Linked DNA regions of Homo sapiens: region 1 is reported to be linked to region 2. Evidence: microRNA targets listed by miRTarBase, many of them from high-throughput screens and not tested one by one. Region 2 holds a microRNA gene; the other region holds the end of a gene's coding sequence.
What was found. The annotated mature microRNA hsa-miR-3151-3p reads CCUGAUCCCACAGCCCACCU and lies in region 2 at 2,474-2,493, shown strand. An mRNA with a match to its seed (bases 2 to 7 or 8) in the 3' UTR can be bound and repressed. Matches are read on the target gene's strand: a 7mer-m8 pairs with bases 2 to 8, a 7mer-A1 pairs with bases 2 to 7 and ends in A, and an 8mer does both.

Region 1 (3,000 bases), not on the chromosome of region 2:
TTGGGGAACTCAAAAGCTAAAGCTTAATCAACAAAATAATGAGGAAGACATGTCATGTCAAAATCAAAACTATATATTAAAACACTGCAAAGCTAGAAATACATCTTTGATTCAAATCAGTATTTTGTTTGATTCAATTCTTGTGGTATAAATAGCCTTGTTGTTGGATGTTAACATTTTCTCATTGCCAGATAGGTGAGATGGTGATGATTGTATAAAAGAGATGTAGATTATAGGTTGAGAACTACTGTTGATAGAATTATGCTTTATTTTTAAAAAATTTATGCCTCTAAATAGTTTTGTTAAACACTGAATATCTACCTTGTAATGTATGACATATCCAAAATTGCATTAAGTGTATATCTTAATTATATTTAACCATGTATAATTTTTAATTATATGTGTGTTTCTTTATTTTTTTATTTTTTAAATTCAATAGATGGAAGATGTCTTGAAAGCATTACAAATGAAGCTGTGGGAGGCCGAATCCAAATTGTCCTTTGCCACTTGTAAAAGCTGAACTCTAGTCTGTGTCCTCCATTCTGCCCCCGCCCTTCCTCCCCTTATTTGTTAAATGAAGCAACATAGTGAGACGTCGTCTCTACAAAAAAAAAAAGAAAAAAAAAATTAGCCAGGCATGCGAAACGCTGAGGTGGGAGGATCAGATGAGCTTGGGAGGTTGAGGCTGCAGTGAGCCTTGGTCATGCCACTACTGTGTTCTAGTCTGGGCAACAGAGTGAGACCTTCTCTCAAAAAAAAAACCCAAAATTGTAGAATTACTTCTATAGCTATATTTTATGATAAAGAAGTGATTGTTTCTCAAAATCGCATTTTAAAGACGTTTTATGGTACTTGTTGGAATTGGGACTTAGGAGTTTTGATTTTGATAAGAAACTGGGATAATTTTCTGAACTTTTTTTCCTCTGTATCACATTTATTTACTATTTTTAAAAACTTTGACATTTAACACTTGGGACAACATTTATTATAAATGATAAGAAAAATCTTAGAGGTTTGTCTACCCACAGTGTCATGGAATCTTCTCTGAAAACTAATCCATAAAGTTCCCTGGAGAAATTGGTCAGAATGATCTGTCAGAACCATTTGAAAACTTGCTCAAGAGCAGTTGCTTATATATAGTAGGATTTTACTTTTTCCTGCTTATGTACTACTATATGCTTAAAAAACCTGGAGGAATACTTACCAAAGAGGAGTAACCATCTCTGAGGGTGGGATTCTGGGGGAATTTTTGTTTTTTTCTGTTTTCTATAATGTGAAACTTTTGTAGTATGTATTTTTCTAATTGAAGAGAATAAAGATTAAAACAAAGTGCTTTAAGATTGATTTTTACAAACTGAATTGTATTTAACTGAGATCAGAAATCCTGGTGCTGTGAAATCCACACATTACTGAGCATGGCAGTGTGGAAGGCCTGCTCAGGAATATAAAGGTAACCCCAAATTTCCCCAGACCCCTTTGTTTCTGGGTGTGAGTGAGGTCACGGAACAGTACTCAGTGGTATGAGTAACTCAGCGTTTGCTCCGAAGTTCCCTGATTACTTGTGAGAATACTAAAGTTCTCAGAGCAAAAGGTCCTAAGTCACATTGACTGGATCATGCAGGATTCTTCTGTTCTTTCTGAGAGATTGTCGACAGCCTCAGTTAACGTTGAGTGAGTCCTTTAGGCGTTCTCTCTCGCAGGCTACTCTCCCACTAACAGACTATGGTGCTGTGGAAGCAAACGTCAACACCCGCTGGCAACAAGGCAGCATCCAGCTGCAGTAAGCTCGATGTAGTCCCAGGTGTCTGTCCTCTTAGGTGCTTTGGTGGCACCTTGTGTGAAAATGCATTCTAAACAGATGAGAGAGTATTTTAGCCACAAGACTCAGCTGACTCTCTGGTTGTGCAGGTTACAGAGTACTCCAGCAAGCATTTTCAGATTCCATTCCAAAGCCATAGGCAATTTGGCTCCCCGATTCCTTATACCCTGTTCATACTAGGGAAGGAAGGGGCTGTACAATATTTGTAGCCAGTTCACTCATCTTGAAAACTCATTTCACCAATGAAAAGTAATTTCTAATATCTTGGTACTAATTAAGATTCTGTTACAGATCAGAAGATAAATGTAGCTCATGCCTTAGTGGCTGCCTCTAGAGTGGGCCTTTGATTACCTTTCCATCTCTGCACGTGTATTCCTGTTAGGGTTCTTCACATGAAGTTAACGAGGCTCCCTTGGGCTGCAGACAGAAGCCAGCACACATTTGTATTACATGGTCTCCACTGAAGCATCTGAACGTCAATCCAGGAAATACTGTGTTTCATAAGACAGTCTTCATCTTTGGCCTCAACCTGTGGCATCCCTGAAGGGGTGGCCTTGCCATCACAGTGAGAGGGACTTCCAAGGCTGGGGTCCAGGTGGGAGTGCTGCATCCTGTCTGTGCTGCATGGTGACACTGGCAGGAGAGGGGACTTCCCCTGTTGTGGGCCACCCTGTCCTGGGCCGCTTGTTTCTCTGAAGCCTGGTGGCATGGCTTTTCTGGCTTTCTGTGAGGTCTCATCAGAACGTGTGTGTGTGTGTGTGTGTGTGTGTTTAACTTGTCCCATATATCCACCTGCTAAAACCTACTACTTGAGGCAACAAGTTTTTGTTTCTTATAATTGGAAAACCCAGTGTGTGGTCGTTTCTGGTAAATGAGCCCTGGGGAAGCACTGCCTGTGAGCAGGAGTAAGGGTCCAGAAGCAGTGTGTCCGGAATTGGTGGGTTCTTGGTCTCACTGACTTCAAGAATGAAGCCGCGGACTCTCGCAGTGAGTGTTACAGCTCTTAAGGTGGCGCGTCTGGAGTCTGTCCCTTCTGATGTTCAGATGTGTTCGGAGTTTCTTCCTTCTGGTGGGTTCGTGGTCTTGGTGGCTCAGGAGTGAAGCTGCAGACCTTCGCGGTGAGTGTTACAGCTCTTAAGGCAGCGCGTCTGGAGTTGTTCGTTCCTCCCGGTGGGCTAGTG
Region 2 (3,537 bases):
CTTCCTTGGCCTCCAGGGGCCTGCATGACGAGGTCCCTGCTGATTTTCCAGCATGATTTCATTGTTTACTCTGCTCTGTTTTTTGCTCAGCGTGTTCCGGCCACGCTTGATTCCCCTCTGTTCTCTGAATACATGGAGCCCCTTCCTGTCACAGGCCTTCACACTTGCTGCAATGTGCTTCCTCCCCACACCCGCCCCCTCTGTGTGGTTAACTCCTCTTCACCCTTTGGCTCTCAGTTCAGATGTCACCTCCTCAGAGAGACCAGCCTTCCCCAGTGGCCATCTGGTCATTTCCTTCCTAACACCACTGCCTGTCATTGTCTTGTTCGTTTACTGTTTATTTCTTGACTCTCTCGCTTCAAGAGGTCAAGGATCTGATGGACTCACCCACTGTTACAGTCCAAGTGCTTAGAACAGTGCCCAGCACAGAGTAGGCACTCGGTGGATGTTTGTTGAATGAAGGGAACCCTCCACACCTTTTGTACCAGTTAGGGATTGCATCTGGCTGCCTGAACAGAAACCAACTCCAGGAATGGGATTTAGCCCATGGAAGGTCTGCACAGAGGTCTGGAGGTCGGCGGCCACACCCAGTCACGGACACTGTGGAGGAGCTGGGCTCCTTTGGCTTTATTGCTCTGCCATCCTTAGTGTGTGGATTTCATCCTCATGGCTGCGAGATGCTGCACCATCTTATTTCAAATGGGAAGAAGGAGACGGGCAGAAAGGGGCATTCTGCCTGATCTGTTCCTTATCTGTAAAATGACAGTTTTCCTCAAACCCAGTAAACTTTGCTTGGGTCTTATTGGTCAGAAGTGTATGATGTAGGTGTTCTGGGCTACAAGGGTGTCTAGGAACTCAAAACTTTTAGCTTTTTACCCTATATTGACCAGGCATTGGATGTGGGCTTCCCCAGCAAGGGGATGTGATGTTGTGTGAGGTCATTTCCTTCCACACAGGGAACTTTCAAGCTACCCTAAAAGTATCAGGGTCCTCTTGGCAAAGGAAAAATGGGGAGAACAGATACTGGGCAGGCTGCCAGCAGAGTGGTCACTTCTTTCATCCTATAGCTGTGGTCAGAGAGGAGAGAAGATTTCCAGGAACAAGAAGGGGGAAAGGAATTAGGTAAGTGAGGAGGGAGAGAAGTTCTGCCAGAAACCAAGGTGACATGATTGCTAGTGTTACAATTTTGCCGTAACAACAATAATAATATTGTTTTTAATATTTTCATGTTTCAAGTAAGTTCATAAGGTGAACATTCTCTGGAAAAACCACATATGCTAATATTGAAATAATTTTTAAAAATAATGCAATACCTTAAACTTTAATCTTTTAGAATGGTCTTTTAACTTCAGACTGTGCTGTGTACGTGAAATGCATGGTGGACATTCCCTTGTCTTCTGCCTTATTTTCCTGCAAGATTAATGCCAGCCAGAGACTGATGTGCCAGCTAATATTCCATGGCACCAATTTCCAGTTAGTGGGAACATTTGTGGGTGTCTGCTGTGCAGGGTCACACTGCTGCTCAGGCTGGGAGCTTCTGTTGGAGAAGCAGCTCGCAGCCAACTGGCAAATTTAAAGAGTTGACAGTGTTTTCTGTGGAAGTTCAAAAAACCCAACCTGCTGCTGTCTCTAGGGCTTGTGGACTTTAGGGCGTTAAGAAACTGGAAAGGCTTGCAGAAAATAGCAGGGCAGTTTGGGAAACTGGTCACCATGACAACAGGGCATGGCAGCGGTTACAATGGAAGCAGAGACCGCCTGTGCACCCTTCCTAAGAGGAATGATTCAGGCTTAAGCACCTCAATAAACAACTGGCATGTTTGAAACCGAGGCCTCATTAAACGATTACCTCCAAGAATCACTTTTCAAGGGCAGTCTTCATAGCAGTCAGGCTCACACTTTCTTGCTGGGGTGATAAGTGATGATGTACAAGCACAAACGAACACAGCTACGACCTCATGGTGTGGCTTCCATTAATTGGGTGCTCAGCATGTGCCGGGCTTTGCAGATTTATTAGCTAACTCTGTTATTTCCATTTTACAGAAGGGGGTAGTCAGAGCGGTGGGATGGCTTGTCTAAATGTACACGGGCTGTGAGCAGTGGGGTGGGGTTTGGAACTCAGGTCTGTCTCATTCTGAGCCCTGTGGTCTTTCCTGTACACCAGCCCCTTCATGGATTGCTAGCTTCTGTCCTCACCGCCTTTCACCTAGACATTTGCAACAACTTTTGGACTAGTCTTCACACCCCCAGTCACTCCCACTCCAATCCCCTTCACATTATTGCCAGGTAAATACTCCCAAGTACAGCTGGGATCATTATTGTGTTATTCTTCCACTCAAAGCCTTTCATGATTTCCCACTATCTACTGAATACAAATGTCTTAGTATGGAATTCAAGGCTTTCTCTCCAGCCTCTCCATACAACCTTTGGGGTGATGGGTGGGGCAATGGGATCAGGTGCCTCAAAGGGCATCCCACCTGATCCCACAGCCCACCTGTCACCCCAAAAGCCTGCTGCTCCTGCCCTTCTGCTTCAGTTATGTGTTCCCTGATAGCACACACCATTTAGGACACTTACTCCCTTTTGAGTTTTCTTATTTATGATTGTGACTTATCTCTGCTATTATACTGTATACTCTTAAAGACAGAGCCAAGAAACAGACTCTGAGGTAAACCCTTACTGGAGAGAGCTCTAGTAACACCACCTGTGATGTGGGCCTCTTACCTATCTCAAGCTATATATATATATATATATAATATATATGGAGAATAGTATAATAAACCTCCATGTACCCATCATCAGCTTCAACAATTATCAACATATTGCAAAGCTTGTTTCATCTCTGCCTCCATTCCACTTCGCCAATTAAACATTTTTGAAGCAAATTCCACAAGTCATGTAACTTCATCCATGAATACTTCAGTATGAATCTCTAATAAACTGGGACTCTTTAAAAAAGATATTAGATTGGACCATATCTATTAGATTGGACCAAAAAGATATTAGATTGGACCATTTTGTTATTTTTGTAGGTTGAAATAGTGTAATATTAGCAATTTCATATACTTCAAACTAATATATAACCATGATACCATCATCACACCTAAAAATTAATGAAAACTTCTTAATTCTCTAATGTAATAATAATTCAGTCAGCATCCCAGTTTCTCTAATAGGGTGAGGGGCACAGTCCAGGGCAGAGGGAGGAGTGGAATGGCTGTTGTAATAGGGGCTTCAGCTGATGCCCTGGGGAGCTCTGGAGCTGGGATGGCCATTCAGCAATTGAGAAGACTGGGCCTTTTTACCCTGTATCGGCCAGGCGCTGGATGCAGTCTTCCCCTAGCAAGTAGGTGTGACCTTGGGTAAGGTCATTTCCTTCCACAGGAGCAGTGCCTGGAGAGGCACTCAGCTGTGATCCTTTAGCGGCTAACTCTCCTAGCAGCTGGAGAATCTGGTGCTGCCGTCCCATAGGAAGACCTGGCAGTAATCACCTTACTCATCTTTCTGCTTCCCTAGTGGCTGCATATCAGATTCACCTGG

Region 1: miRTarBase lists MIS18A as a target of hsa-miR-3151-3p. Seed matches in the 3' UTR shown: 8mer at 659-666.

Annotation. Positions count from the first base shown.
Region 1 is chr21:32,266,557-32,269,556 of GRCh38, reverse strand. It overlaps MIS18A (MIS18 kinetochore protein A), which reads left to right. Exons shown (of 5, transcript NM_018944.3): 5 at 440-1,329. The coding sequence ends at 520. Among named protein-coding and RNA genes, the nearest start is that of MIS18A, 11 kb to the left of the region's middle.
Region 2 is chr8:103,152,189-103,155,725 of GRCh38, forward strand. It overlaps MIR3151 (microRNA 3151), which reads left to right and starts at 2,426; the gene lies at 2,426-2,501. The region is part of intron 1 of BAALC (BAALC binder of MAP3K1 and KLF4); the gene reads left to right.